Homo sapiens: one gene and its partners. The protein of the gene in region 4 purifies or fractionates together with the protein of the main gene of each other region. This does not show direct contact. Each region holds a gene or a part of one and is shown on either strand. Other genes may lie near its edges.

The links. The genes of interacting proteins can lie anywhere in the genome.
Region 1: the proteins of RPS6KA5 (region 4) and MOV10 purify together in Homo sapiens (affinity purification with mass spectrometry; one large-scale study listed by BioGRID and IntAct). This does not show direct contact.
Region 2: the proteins of RPS6KA5 (region 4) and C1orf116 fractionate together in Homo sapiens (co-fractionation; one large-scale study listed by BioGRID). This does not show direct contact.
Region 3: the proteins of RPS6KA5 (region 4) and GLUD1 purify together in Homo sapiens (affinity purification with mass spectrometry; one large-scale study listed by BioGRID and IntAct). This does not show direct contact.

What each region holds. Positions count from the first base shown.
Region 1 is NC_000001.11:112,677,659-112,681,158, forward strand, and holds part of MOV10 (helicase MOV-10), read left to right. Parts: intron 1-3,500.
Region 2 is NC_000001.11:207,029,957-207,033,921, forward strand, and holds the start of C1orf116 (specifically androgen-regulated gene protein), read right to left. Parts: upstream 2,801-3,965; 5' UTR 2,623-2,800; intron 1-2,622. UniProt on the Homo sapiens protein: Putative androgen-specific receptor.
Region 3 is NC_000010.11:87,056,844-87,060,343, reverse strand, and holds part of GLUD1 (glutamate dehydrogenase 1, mitochondrial isoform a precursor), read left to right. Parts: intron 1-102; coding exon 103-183; intron 184-1,070; coding exon 1,071-1,194; intron 1,195-2,561; coding exon 2,562-2,653; intron 2,654-3,500. UniProt on the Homo sapiens protein: Mitochondrial glutamate dehydrogenase that catalyzes the conversion of L-glutamate into alpha-ketoglutarate. Plays a key role in glutamine anaplerosis by producing alpha-ketoglutarate, an important intermediate in the tricarboxylic acid cycle.
Region 4 is NC_000014.9:91,050,642-91,054,141, forward strand, and holds part of RPS6KA5 (ribosomal protein S6 kinase alpha-5), read right to left. Parts: intron 1,822-3,500; exon of another isoform or gene 1,682-1,821; intron 1-1,681. UniProt on the Homo sapiens protein: Serine/threonine-protein kinase that is required for the mitogen or stress-induced phosphorylation of the transcription factors CREB1 and ATF1 and for the regulation of the transcription factors RELA, STAT3 and ETV1/ER81, and that contributes to gene activation by histone phosphorylation and functions in the regulation of inflammatory genes.

The sequences.
Region 1 (3,500 bases), on a different chromosome or scaffold from region 4:
CTGTCTGCAGTCCCCAGCATAGAGCTTTGTATGTAGTAGATGCTCAATAAATGCTTGCAGAATCTAAGTGAACTAGCAACTAGAGTTAACTAACAAGAGAATGGGCCATATAGCGGGGGGTATAGCAAGTCACACTCTTTAGGAATTCTAGGAGATTCCTACACTGAGAGGGGATAGGTCTCTCCAGCTAGGTTATTTTATGATGTTATAAAGTGCTCTGCTCTGAACTCTTGCCTTTTCCCACCTACCTTTATTCATTTAGCAAATATAGTTAATGAGGCTCTACTGTGTGCCTGTGCCTTGGTCCTTGCCTCCAAAGAATATAATCTAGTAAAGAGCAGCAGATATGTGTAGACAAACAAATGCAATACAGTAGTATAGGTGCTAGTAATGGTGTTTAGATAGCCCTGCCATTTAGTGGTTGCATTTAACTTTGAACAACTCTCTAAATTTTCCATTTCCCCAACTGTAAGAGTATGTAAAATAGTACCTTTCTCTCGGGGTTGTGAGAGACCAAAATGAGTTGTCCTAGGCAAAGCATTTGTGTGGCTAGCATATTACACTGGCTTTGTTAAGTGGTACCCCTCATTAGTGCGATGATGATTAGGAGTCCATTGTATGGGGTAAGGACTGATGTCACGAAAAGGTTTCTGAGAGAAGATGATTCTTGCTTTGGACAGGAGACTCATTCTTCTACAAGTACTGGCTGAGTGCTTCCTATGAATGGCAAAGCAAAAGTGAGTTGCTAGAAATATACAAAAGGAACCCAACTAACTAAGGAAGGAGGCAGCAGTTAGATAATTATTTAATTACGGTTGTGATGAGTGCTTGTACAGAAAAGTCCAGTATGCATTGAGAGTATATAATTTGGAGATCTGTCCTAGTCTAGCAACCTAGACTAGATCAAGAAACTTAGGCAGAGGTTTCTTGGGGAAAGTGATATTTGAGTAGAATCTTGAAGGATTAATGGGACTTAGAAGGTGTAAAGGGCAAGGGTAGAGTGTACAGGCAGGAACAGCACCTTCAAAGGCTTGGGATGACCTCAGAAGAACGGGAGACCAGCAGGGCCCTGGGTAGGCATTGTGAGGTGTTTTGTTTTGTCTTTAATCTTAATGGAAATAGGAAAACACAGAAAATTTCAAAGTAAGAGTCTGACGTAATCAGATTTAGAAAGATCATTCTGGCTTCTGGCGTGGAGAGTGGCTTGGTGGTTGGACCTCTACCCACAGTAAAAAACACATTTTACTTTGGGACCTGGCATACACAACCTTCACAAAACAATGCCTGCCCTTGAAACAATACATAGTTTCACTCCCTGCTCTCTGATATTTTTTATTCTATTTTATTTCAATTTTATAAAAACCCTGGCTTTGACCCGCTAATGGGAGTTGGAATCCATAGTCTATAGATTGTGAAACTAGATGTCTCTTTAAGATCACTTCCAAATCTGATCATATGTGCTGAAATACCATTCCTCTAGCTTTTGGCCTTTCCTGAACTGGGTCTAAAAAGATTAGCCATTGTTCACCCAACAAACAGCAGGGGCGGCCTAAGGCAGGGCAGTGCAGGCTAAGGATGTCCACAGCACAGAAGTCTGCAGAGGGGCACAGTGATACAAGTAGTTGGGAATGGCTGAAATAAGGATGGATTGACAAGAGGCCAAGTGTGGTTGAGGATGTGTACCTCAATTTCTTTTTCTCTAAAATGGGATGATAATAATTACTACCTCAAAGGGTTGTTTTGAGGATTGAATGAGATAATGCATTCAGGAAACGTTTTCTGTTGATGTTATTGTATTTGCATTATCGTTGTTACTATGGAGGATCTTGGAAGGTGCCATATTAAAGACTTAATTTTGTGGACTATGGAGTTGTAAATTGAGGGAACAAGATCAGATTTGTGTTTGATGACAATTCTGCAGATATAGGGGGTGGCCTAGTGTAGGGGTATGAAGCCAGAGGTAGGGAGAACAGTTAACTGGAACCTAGAAAATTGAGCAAGGGGTATGATCAGGCAGCTCACAGAAGAAATATAAATGACTAATAAAAGAAGGAAAGATCCTTGACTATATTGGTGATCAGAGAAATGCACAGTTTAAAAAGATAGGAGTTTTTGTAATCAAATTGTCAAAAATTTAAAACATTGAAAATTTCTGATGTTAGAGCTTTGGGAAAAGGGCATTTTCTAACTCTTGTTAGTGAGAACATAAATTTGTACAACCTGTTTAAAGGACAATTTGGCAGAACTTATCAAAGTTGTAAAGGTTCATTCTCTTTGACCCAGGTGTTGTACTTTAAGGAATTTATCCCATTAGACTTGCCTACAAGTACAAGGGTTTGTGTGCAAGGATAGTTATTGTAACATTAGGAGTAGCCAGAAATTTCAGGCAGCTTGTCTATCACTAGAGAAAAAAACACACCATGATGCATTCATACATGCTATCTTTTGTAGCCATTCAAAAGGTCATGGTGGTTCTGTAAAGCATTGTTATGGGAGAAGATCCATGGTGGGAAGACGCCTGCTGCAGAATAGTATGTGTAGCATGTATCATCTCATTATTGTGTTTTATATGCATAGAAAAAAATCAGGAAAAACATACATCAAATAGTGGGTTTAATTAATTGCTCCTAATCAAGCAAGTAGTTGGAAGCAAGGGAATTAAGGGCTTTAATGTTTTATGTTAGATACTTGTTTAAATGTTTTAAAAATACTTTTGGGCCGGGCGCGGTGGCTCACGCCTGTAATCCCAGCACTTTGGGAGGCAGAGGTGGGCGGATCACGAGGTCAGGAGATCGAGACCATCCTGGCTAACACGGTGAAACCCCATCTCTACTAAAAATACAAAAAATTAGCTGGGCGTGGTGGCGGGCGCCTGTAGTCCCAGCTACTCAGGAGGCTGAGGCAGGAGAATGGCCTGAACCCGGGAGGCGGAGCTTGCAGTGAGCCGAGATTGTACCACTGCACTCCAGCCTGGGCGACAGAGTGAGACTCCGTCTCAAAAAAAAAAAAAAAAAAAAAAACTTTTGGTGATCACCTTTTCATTTATCTCTTTTTTTTTTTTTTTTTTTAAATCTCTCTCTGTCACTTAGGCTGGAGTGCAGTGGCACGATCTCAGCACACTGCAACCTCCACCTCTCGGGTTCAAGCAATTCTCCTGCCTCAGCCTCCCACGTAGGTGGGATTACAGGCGTGAACCACCATGCCTGGCTAATTTTTGTATTTTTAGTAGAGACGAGGTTTCACCATATTGGTCAGGCTGGTCTTGAATTCCTAACCTCAGGTGATCACCTGCCTTGACCTCCCAAAGTGCTGGGATTACAGGCGTGAGCTACTGCACCCGGTTCATTTATCTCTTTTTGCAGGCATGCTTATATCACACCTACATAAGTTTACACACGTGGGATCATTATCACATATCATTTTTATTGTGGACCCCTCCCCTTATGGGCATCCAACCTCCATTTCCACATTCCGCCCTGTACTCAGGTACCTCTTGATAT
Region 2 (3,965 bases), on a different chromosome or scaffold from region 4:
ACTACCCTTGTGCTTCTAAGTATGCTTTAGACTTTACAGAGGTTTTCTAGTCTCTCTTTCCTACCAGGGAAGCTTATCACACTTTTGTTTCAGAACCTAGGATGTCTTCAAGTAGCTGGAAGAGATAAAAGTGGTAGGAAAAGCACTGCTTCACAAGAACACAGCATGCCATAGCTTGCAAAGTACTCTCAGATATGCTAATTCGATCTTCAGCATAAACTGGAAACATAGGCAGGATGTGACGTTTTCTTCATTTTACGGGTGAGAAAGTTATGGCTCTTACCACTAGCCCTTCCTAAGGGAAACAGGGAATGACCTATACATGCATATACAGGGCAGCCCTCCACAGGGCATTTCAGGGACTATCTGGATGCAAGAGGGGCATGCCCCCGAGAATGGTTACTAGCCACCCCTGACTAAAATACTAAAAGCCTTAAAACCCCCTTCTCCTTCTACTTCATACCTTAAACCCTGCAAATCATCTGCTTCAGCTTTATACTTCCAGACCAGTGTATTGCCCCAACAGCAGATATTTCTACAGTAAAGAAATGACACCAACTGCCAAGGAAGATCATGTCTTTAGGGATTACATAATCCCTGCACAGAGGAATCTGAACCTGAAACCAAAGCTGAGCGAGGCGCTGTCACCTCATCTCCATACCTAGTTTTCTGACCTAAAGAATCTTAATGGTGAAAGCTGCATTTCCTTTCACCGACTTCACAACCTTGAACCTTGGGGCTCTTTCAGGGCAGCCATCGAAACCCTGATAAGAAGACTGAGAAACAAACAAAACACTCAAGGTGAGAGTTTGGTATCTTAACCCTTGACCTCTTTGGGAACTTAACGGGAGGAGGGAATGGGTTAAGAAATATGCAGCACCTATAGTCAGGGCCACCCATCCAAAGACACATTAAATATTAACTACACCACTGACTAAAATACTAAATACTGCCAAGCCTTGGAGGAGAGGAAATAAAGAACAGTTCAAGTTCTGGCATCTGGAGATGGTGGGGTGGGGAGAGGGCTCCAGCTCCATTCCAGGTTGGCTTGTCTGTACCTTCTAATCAGACCCAGGTCCCTCTCATCCTCCTCCCACGAACCCCCCACATGTCCTCCAAGAGCTTTGCCTCTCTGCCTACTAGTCAAAGAGGTTTCCTGTCTTTCAATCCAGGTGTCTTTGCTTCTTGTTGACTACCCAGAAATGTGCCTTGGGCTGGAAAATATCCTAAGAAAAATAGCAGAATGACTAAAACTTGCACAGTTTGCATATCTGTCTCCATGAACACATGGGCAAGTTTCTGTGTGTGTTTAGGCAACATTATCATCTTCCCTTTCACCAGTGTGTTTGAGGGAAGGAGCAGGTAGAAATACCCTCTGCATAGCAGAGCTTTGTTAGACACTGCCAGTGGTCTTTATTCCTAAATTCACCATCTAGGGCAGCCCTCAGTCTGTGAGTGTGGGGTGTTGGCTCTGTGGTGTGAGGTGAGCTCAAGCCTAAATCTCCAGTTGCCAGGACTGGAAAACCCATATATTCACTCAGGGCTGCGTGTGCCAGGCCCTTGAGCCTGGCACTGAGGGCTTCCCACTTCCCTCTTCTCTGCAGCAGGAGGAAAAGAGTCAAAGTTAGGGACCAAAGGGTTAAACCCCCCAAGATGGATAATGGAGAGGCAACTTGCTACTCTGACTCGACTCCTACATCTGCCTTCCTTCTGCAGGTAAATCTGCCACACAAACTGCCAACTGGGACACCTGCAGGAAAACAAACAAAGCCACCACCCTGGTCTGCTTCTCTGTCTGTGGACTCTGCCACACTACCTTGGCTTGAGCCCCACTTGGAACTCTAACTAGACTTGACATGCAGCCACGAAATATTCATGTGGGTGAGGCTCGGCACAGCCAGGTAGCTTTCTGTTTGCCAGTCTCTGTGTCTATTAACAGGCTGAGTCAGAAAGTTAATTGAGTAGAATCCAAATAAACTTGACTTTGCAGCTAGATTATCCATGGGTTTTCCAAAGATGAGCTGGTAGCTGAAGTTTTCTCCATGTGCCCCAACCTCATATCCCTTTACAAACAACCTAGTACAGCTCATGCCTAACACACCTGTACACAGAGAGCTCCATTATCACATGAGCATGATCAAACACACACACACATTGCACCCATTATTTAAATAAAGATCGACACCGAGTTGGTAAAGCCACGGGAGAATTTCCTGTTACAGTCGCTATGGAAAACCAAGATACTCTCCCCCATTTTGACTCCCTCTATTTCAACTGTTCTTTTCTAAAATCACAACTCAATTTCAATTGTTCAGAGATGGAAATTTCCAAAACAAATCTATTTTCTTTTTCTTGTTGTTTGCACAATATGCCTATCCAACCTAAAGGGATAAATGAAAAAGAAGGTGCCTCCCAGCCCCAGTCTCCACAAAAACACTACAATCTCAAGTTGCTACCAACCTGATCTGATCCCAGAATGGACTCAGAGAATTGAGGAACAGAGAGGAAATCTCCCTAGCTGGGGTATAGAGGGACACCTCCCCTCCCCTGTAGCTCTGATTTCCCATGAAACCCCTTCCTATTGCTATAGGATAAGCAATAGTTGGTTAGTGATTAACTCACCTCCACTGGGTTGGGGGCTGAAGAGAGAAAAGAAATACCCTTTTGTTTCAAAGGGCAGAGATGGAGACAGAGGCTGCTTCCCCTGCCTCCTACTGTTTTCTTCTCCTTTTGAGCTCCTCCTGACTTACCTAGATAGGTAAATGCTTCATCTGTGCTGCCTGGCCCCCACCCTGCCACTGACTCAGCCAATCCTAGCCTCCCCTCCCTACCTCTCATTCCAGCTGTTTCCTCAGGGAGGGAATGGGAGGGGAATGAGCAGGGTGGTGCTGTTCCCTCTTAGCCAATCATCTCCTACCCTCCCCTTTCCTGTTTAGAGCTAATAAAGAGCTCTTTAAAAAAGGAGGGCTGGAAGGAGGAGGAGCCGGTTTGGGCTGAGACTGGAAGGACAGGTGGCAGGGAGGGAGTAGGCAGAGATAGTATATATATTTAATGTTGATATAAAGGAACGCAGACAGTCCTCTGGGCAGTGTGCTTTTCCATAGGTCTATGTGAAACAGGTTTTTCATCTAGAACTACCTTCTTCCGCTTGGAGCTTAGTTTTCCCCTGAATTCTCTAGGCTAAACTCATTTGTGTTCAGTTTTGCTGCTAGCTTTTCTAGATGTTGAAAGTCACTTTCTTCCCCAAGCCTAATCCTAGCTCATAAGCCTAGCAATTCCATTCATGTCCACTGAAGAAGGTGTCCCCAGGCTAGGGATGCTGTAGTTGGGCCAGTCTCGCCCCAGTGCTTGCCAACAATCTCCTTGGCCTAATTTATTTCTGGGGGAAATAAAACCATTCATCCCCTAAGAGGTCCGTGTCCTGATGAAAGAGTGACTGGACAGCTTGAAAGGAGAGAGCATGCACTCTGTCATTTGGTCCTCTGCTCTCTTTTGGCTGTTCATGGAAGGTGGCAATACATATTATGAAATAAAAACAAAACAAACTACCAACCAGTTTAGCAACTCTTGTCTCCTTTCATGGACTGATACTTGGCATTCGTAGGGAGAAGAGAGTAGGTAGAAGAATCTACTATTTTTGGGAAGAAATTTCCCACCAGGTACAGAGACCACTCTTAACAGATATGATTTTTGCCTGGAAGCTGGTTTTTCCTACAGGTAGATTATCCTTGATAGGTATCAGGATTTGAGGTATTCCACTTACTAGCATTAAAAGGTCAGGGAGAAAATTTAAAATCAATGTACACAATAATTGCCAAAATGTATTAAGCTCTTGCTATTTGCTAGGTATTGTGCTGAGCATTTTCATGTATCTTTTAATTTAGTCTTTAACTTAAAAAAGTAGGCATTTGTTAATATCTAAATTTTACAGGGAGGTTAAAAATCTTTTTCAAGGCCATGTAGCT
Region 3 (3,500 bases), on a different chromosome or scaffold from region 4:
TCTCCCCACAGCCCCTTGTTCATATATGCACATCTCTTGCCCTCAGTGGAGGGGATTTGACGGTGGTGTTCGCATTTCTCTATGTTCCTGACTCTCTTGCAGATCATTGCTGAAGGTGCCAATGGGCCAACAACTCCAGAAGCTGACAAGATCTTCCTGGAGAGAAACATTATGGTTATTCCAGTAAGTCATCTATATTTATTAGGCTTTATATGTACTTAGAATCATAATAGTCTTTTGCAAGGAATTTGGAGGAAGAGAGGAATTATTAGTCTCCAAGCTCTAGTGAATTCATCTTTTTCACTTTTGAGAAAATATAGTAGAAGCATGGTTAATTCTAAGCCTGTTAATTTTCACTTTGATCGAAACATTTATTCCAATTTCAGGCTCTTTACTGAATGTCTTTAGCCTTCTAAGAGTCTGGTTATATAAATGTGTACTGTGTTAGAAACACTATTCTAACTAAAGCTCTTAAGATTTTCTATATGATTCCTAACCTTATGCATTTCAAGTGCCCTTTCCAGCTTTACTCAGAAAACTAATATGAGGAACACGTGCTCAGGTTTTTTAGCAAGTAAAAATGAGTCTACACCAAAAAGTTACTAGAAATTAATGTGGGCTTGGAATATATTTTAAAGAACCCCCTTTGCTGAAAGCACTTAAGACATTTAATGTAACTGAAATGGGCTACCCTTAGGTAATAGGAGAAAGAATCCTGTCTTCTGAGAGGCCCTGTGGACAGTCCAGTCCAACTGGTTGGTGGGCAAGCCATTTAGTCTGAGAACTAACTTCTGGTAGAGAAGAGGCTCCAACCAAAGATTATTAACTTTCCTTGATTAATAAGCCAAAAAATGATTTTTTTTTTTTCCTAAATAGAAAAAGCCTTAGATGGAATTGGGTGGGATGGGAAGGAGTGTTAATTAAGTGTGAAATTCCTGATACTGGCTAAAATATATTTGCGATATTTAAAGTCCAGTCTACCTTGGTATTGAAATTAAGGTCTTAGGTTCATTTTCAGCTTTTACGAAAACCATCATCTTCTAATTTCTTTGTCTTATTTTTGTGCATAGGATCTCTACTTGAATGCTGGAGGAGTGACAGTATCTTACTTTGAGTGGCTGAAGAATCTAAATCATGTCAGCTATGGCCGTTTGACCTTCAAATATGAAAGGGATTCTAACTACCACTTGCTCAGTGAGTATCGATAATCTTGTTCGCCAAAACTCATCTTTTGAGCCAGCTGAAAGGCTGTAAAAAGGTCCACTTAAGAGAACTGATCCCTTTGGGAAAGAATTGAGTCTCAGAAAAGAAAATAATATTTTGTCTCATGAAACTTAGACCAAAAATGCACAATGTCTTTCTGGATATTAACTCTCCCATATATTATATCCAGAGTTTTATTCTGTGATGTAATATTCACAGAATATAATCTACATTTTTTTTTTCTTTTTTTGAGAGGGAGTCTCGCTCCGTCGCCGAGGCTGGAGTGCAGTGGCACGAACTCGGCTTACTGTAGCCTCCGCCTCCCAGGTTCAAGCAATTCTCCTGCCTCACCCTCCCAAGTAGCTGGGGCTACAGGCACTCACCGCCACGCCCGGCTAATTTTTGTATTTTTAATAGAGACGGGGTTTCACCATGTTGGCCAGGATAGCCTTGATCTCCTGACCTCATGATCCGCCTGCCTCAGCCTCCCAAAGTGCTGGGATTACAGGCGTGAGCCACTGTGCCCAGCCAATAATATTTTTTTAAGTGTGATTTTAAAACTCCACTGTCGATACTAATTTCTGTCTCTGGTTGCTCTTAGTAAAGGCCTATCTAGTGTCAAGAATTGTTTTTGAGACTCCTGATGAGAATACTTGTTTTTCTTTGACTAGAGTAAGCTCCACAGTTAAGAGTAGAATTTCTCATCTAGTTGAAATAAGACCAAGACCTCCTACTGAGCTTCTGTACTCAGCCCACTGTGAGAATCTGGGTGAAGTGTTCCATCTATTTCCTTTTCTTTTTCCCCCAGCGTTTTCTTTTTAATAGAGCCAAGGAAAAACCCTGGTAATGGGTGTTATGGAAACAGAGCAGTGACCTAAATTCACATTTATATAGGAAATTGGCAATGTGTTTTATTCCTTCCTGACTGAGTTTTAAATGATTAACCCTTTTATGTCATTAAAACTCTGTATAAGGCCAGGCGCAGTGGCTCACGCCTGTAATCCCAGCACTTTGGGAGGCCAAGGCAGATGAATCACGAGGTCAGGAGGTCGAGACCATCCTGGCTAACACGGTGAAACCCCGTCTCTACTAAAAATACAAAAAATTAGCTGGGCGTGGTGGCGCGCACCTGTAGTCCCAGCTACTCGCAAGGCTGAGGCAGGAGAATGGCGTGAACCCGGGAGGCAGAGTTTGCAGTGAGCTGAGATCACGCCTCTACACTCCAGCCTGGGTGACAGACCACGACTCTGTCTGTATAAGTTTTTGGGTTACAGTTATAGTTTGGGACTACTTTTGATTCTACTTTTTTTTTTTTTTTTCTGTTAGCAATATCTTGATCTCTTGTTATTTTTTTGTAGTGTCTGTTCAAGAGAGTTTAGAAAGAAAATTTGGAAAGCATGGTGGAACTATTCCCATTGTACCCACGGCAGAGTTCCAAGACAGGATATCGGTGAGTGTGGTGACCCCACAGTTGTACTTCACACATGCTCCCTGCTCTTTCCTTCAGACAGAGCTGGTTAGATGGATTTCATCTGCGGCATAGTCTTTGTAATTAGCTTGACAGTAAGTGCGTGACATGTGTGTTTTGTACCTTTCCTTTTCATTACATTCTAAAACTGGAGTAAGAATCCTACTGACTACTAACAAATATAAAATAAATAAATTTGGTATTTTTCACGCACGTGTTTTAACAGTGAAGGATTATTATGTATTTTAATTATTTTAAGCTTCAGAGAAATAGGAAGAATTGAAAAGCAAGCATTAGATTGAACTATATGGGAGTCCAAGAGTTTGAGACCAACCTGGGGAACATAGTGAGTCCCCATCTCTACAAAAATAAAGAAAGAAACAAGAGGCCAGGCATGGTGGCACACGCCTGTAATCCCAGCACTTTGGGAGGTCAAGGCGGGTGGATCACGAAGTCAAGTCATCGACACCATCCTGGCCAACATGGTGACCCCGTCTCTACTAAAAATACAAAAATTAGCCAGGCGTGGTGCTACACGCCTATAGTCCCAGCTACTTGGGAGGCTAAGGCAGGAGAATCACTTGAACCCGGGAGGTGGAGGTTGCAGTTAGCCGAGATTGCACCACTGCACTCTAGCCTGAGCAACAGAGAGATACTCCGTTCCCGCCGCCGCCACCCCCCTCCCCCCGCCAAAAAAAAGAAAGGAGGGATGGAGGGAGGGAAACTTCTTTACCAGTAAATGATGGAAGACAGGAAAAACAAAAGTCCATAACACATAAGCCTGGGGGAAAAATTTAACCTCATTGTTAAAGAAATACAAATTGAAAAA
Region 4 (3,500 bases):
TGGTCTCAAACTCCCGACCCCAGGTGATACACCCGCCTCAGCCTCCCAAAGTGCTGGGATTACAGGCGTGAGCCACCGCGCCCAGCCGGCTTGCTTTTGTAAGCTATGTTTGTTTAAAAAAATAAAAATAAAAAAAAAGCAAGTATCTTATTGGAACTAATAGTTATGTTTCTTAAAAGCTAATTACAAATCAAATCATTATTAATGGAACCACATTCAAAAAGCAGCAGGGAACTGTTGTTTTTCAACAGATCCAACATGAATCCTTTGGTAAAACAGGATGATCTTTTAAAGTAAATCATAGGGTCAGGTGTGGTGGCTCATGTCTGTAATTCCAGCCATTTGGGAGGTCGAGGCAGGTGGAGCACGTGAGGTCAGGAGTTCCAGACCAGCCTGGCCAACATAGCGAAACCCCACCTCTACCAAAAAATACAAAAATAAGCTAAGCGTGGCGGTGTGTGGTGGCACACACTTGTAGTCCCAGCTACTTGGGAGGCTGAGGTGGGAGGATCACTTGAACCCAGGAGGCAGTGGTTGCAGTGAGCTGAGATCACGCCATTGCACTCCAGCCTGAGCGACAGAGTGGGACCCTGTCTAAATAAAAATAAATAAATAAATAAATAAATAAATAAATAAATAAATAAAGTAAATCACTAGCCGGGAATGGTGGCTCATACCTGTAATCTCCACACTTTGGGAGGCAGAGATGGGAAGACTGCTTGAGCCCAGGAGTTCAAGACCAGCCTGGGCAACATAGTGAGATTCTGTCTCAATAAAATGAAATTTTAAAATACAACAACAATAAAGTAAATCACCACTCTGGACTTTTTATCATGAAACATCCTTTTATTTTTTTATTTTTTTGAGACAGAGTTTTGCTGTTGTTGCCCAGGCTGGAATGCAATGGTGCGATCGCAGCTCACTGCAACCTCCGCCTCCCAGGTTCAAGCAATTCTCCTGCCTCAGCTTCCAAGTAGCTGGGATTACAGGTGCCCGCCACCGTGCCCAGCTAAGTTTTTGTATTTTTACTAGAGATGGGGTTTCACCATGTTGGCCAGGCTGGTCTCGAACTCCTGACCTCAGGTGATCCACCTGCCTCGGCCTCCCAAAGTGCTGGGATTACAGGCATGAGCCACCATGTCTGGCCGAAAGATTTAAAAAAAAAAGAAAAAGCTCACCCAAACCAACTAGGAATAGAAGAGAACTTTGTCAACCTGAGAAAGAACATCTATGAAAAACTCACAGCTAACTTCATACTCAGTGGTAGAAGACTAAAGCCTTCCCCCTAGGATCGGGAAAAGACAAGGAACTAACTTTGTCTATACCAGAATTTCCATGGAAATGCCACAGAAGAGCTTTAATGCTCGTAAATACTTTGATTATAACTCAGTCCATCACCTTTACTTTATGAATCAAAAAACTTGGGCTCAGAAAGGCAAAATGACTTATCCCAGGTCATATAGCAAATTAGGGGCTGACTTAGAACTACAGTCCACTCCCTACCTCTGTTAAATCTTTACTTAAGGCCAGATGCAGTGGCTCATGCCTGTAATCCCAGCACTTTGGGAGGCCCAGGCAGATGGATCATCTGAGGTAAGGAGTTCAAGACCAGCCTGGCCAACATGGCAAAACCCCATCTCTACTAAAAAAAAAAAAAAAAAAAAAAAAAAAAAAAAATTACCTGGGTATGGTAGTGGGTGCCTGTAATCCCAGCCACTTGGGAGGCTGAGGCAGGAGAATCACTTGAACCCAGGAGGCGGAGGTTATAGTGAGCCGAGATCAGCACCACACTCCAGCCTGGGCAACAGAGTAGACTCGTCTCTTAAAAAAAAAAAAAAAAAAACAGATTTACTTAAGAGATTGTAAATATGGATACCACTAATCAAATAGATAAGATCTTTAGGCAAGCGCGGTGGCTCAAGCCTGTAATCCCAGTACTTTGGGAGGCCAAGGCGGATGGATCATGAGGTCAGGAGATCGAGACCGTCCTGGCTAACACGATGAAACCCCGTCTCTACTAAAAGTACAAAAAAAAAAAAAAGTTAGCTGGGCGTGGTGGCAGGTGCCTGTAGTCCCAGCTACTTGGGAGGCTGAGGCAGGAGAAATGGCGTGAACCCAGGAGGCAGAGCTGGCAGTGAGCAGAGTTCGCGTCACTGTACTCCAGCCTGGGAACAGAGCGAGACTCCATCTCCAAAAAAAAAAAAAAAAAAAAAGCTCTTTAGTTGGTGACAGAACTCAATCAAGAATATTTTGGGGAGACTAGACAGAGGTATCACCAAAAAAGAACACTACAAAGATTTCTTATGGATATAGATACAAATCCTTAATAAAATACAAGCAAACTGAATCCAGCAACAAAGAAAAAGGATTATATACCATGACAAACAAGATTTATCCCAGGAATACAAGGTTGGCTTAACATTCAAAAGTTAATTAATGTAATACACCATATGAACAGAACAAAAAAAATGGTCATCTTAATAGATGCAGAAAAAAGCATCTGACAAAATCCAGCACTCTTTCATGATTTAAAAAAACACCCAAACTAGGAGGAGAAGTGAAATTCTTCAATTTGATAAAATACATCTATGAAAAACCCATAGCTAACCCCATACTCAGTGGTAGAAGACTAAAGCTTTCACCCTAGGATCAGGAATAAGACAAGGATGTCTGCTCTTGCAAGTTCTATTGAACCATAGTGAAGGTTCTGGCCAAGGCAATTAAGCAGGAAATTGAAACAAAAGATATCTGGATTGGAAAGAAAGAAGTAAAATTATCTCTATCCATGGCTAACACAATCTTATAAATAGAAAATCCTAAGGTGTCCACTAAACTATTAGAACCAATAAACTAGTTCACCAAGGTTGCAGGACACAAGGTAAAAACTGTACCTCTATACTCTTGGAATGAACAATCCAAAAATAAAAGTAAGAAACTAGTTCCTTTTACTATAGCATCAAAAAATAAATAAATAATAAAATACTTAGAAATAAATTTAACAAAAGTGCAAATTTATACTCCTTAAACGGAAAAACGTTGTTGAAAGTAATTGAAGACAACCTAAATAAATGGAAAGACATCTCATGTTCATAGATCAGACGACTTAACATTGCTAAGATGGCAACACTGCCAAAGTTTAACTAAAAATTCAATGAGATCCCTATCAGAATGCCACTGAGTTGGCTTCTTTGCAGACACTAACAAGCTGATCCTAGAATCCATATGGAAATACAAGGAATCCAGAATAACCAAAACAATGTTGAAGAATAAGACTCACACTTCTCAATTTCAAAACTTACTAAAAAACTGTAGTAGTCAAGACAGCATGGTACTGCTATAAGGAGAGACATATAGATCACTGGAAGAGAACTGAGAGTATAAAATAAATAAACCCATACATCTATAGTCAACTGATTTTCAATAAGGGTGCCAAGACATTAAAATGGAGAAAAAAATAGTCTTTTCAGCTAATGGTGCTGGAACAATTGGATATTTACATG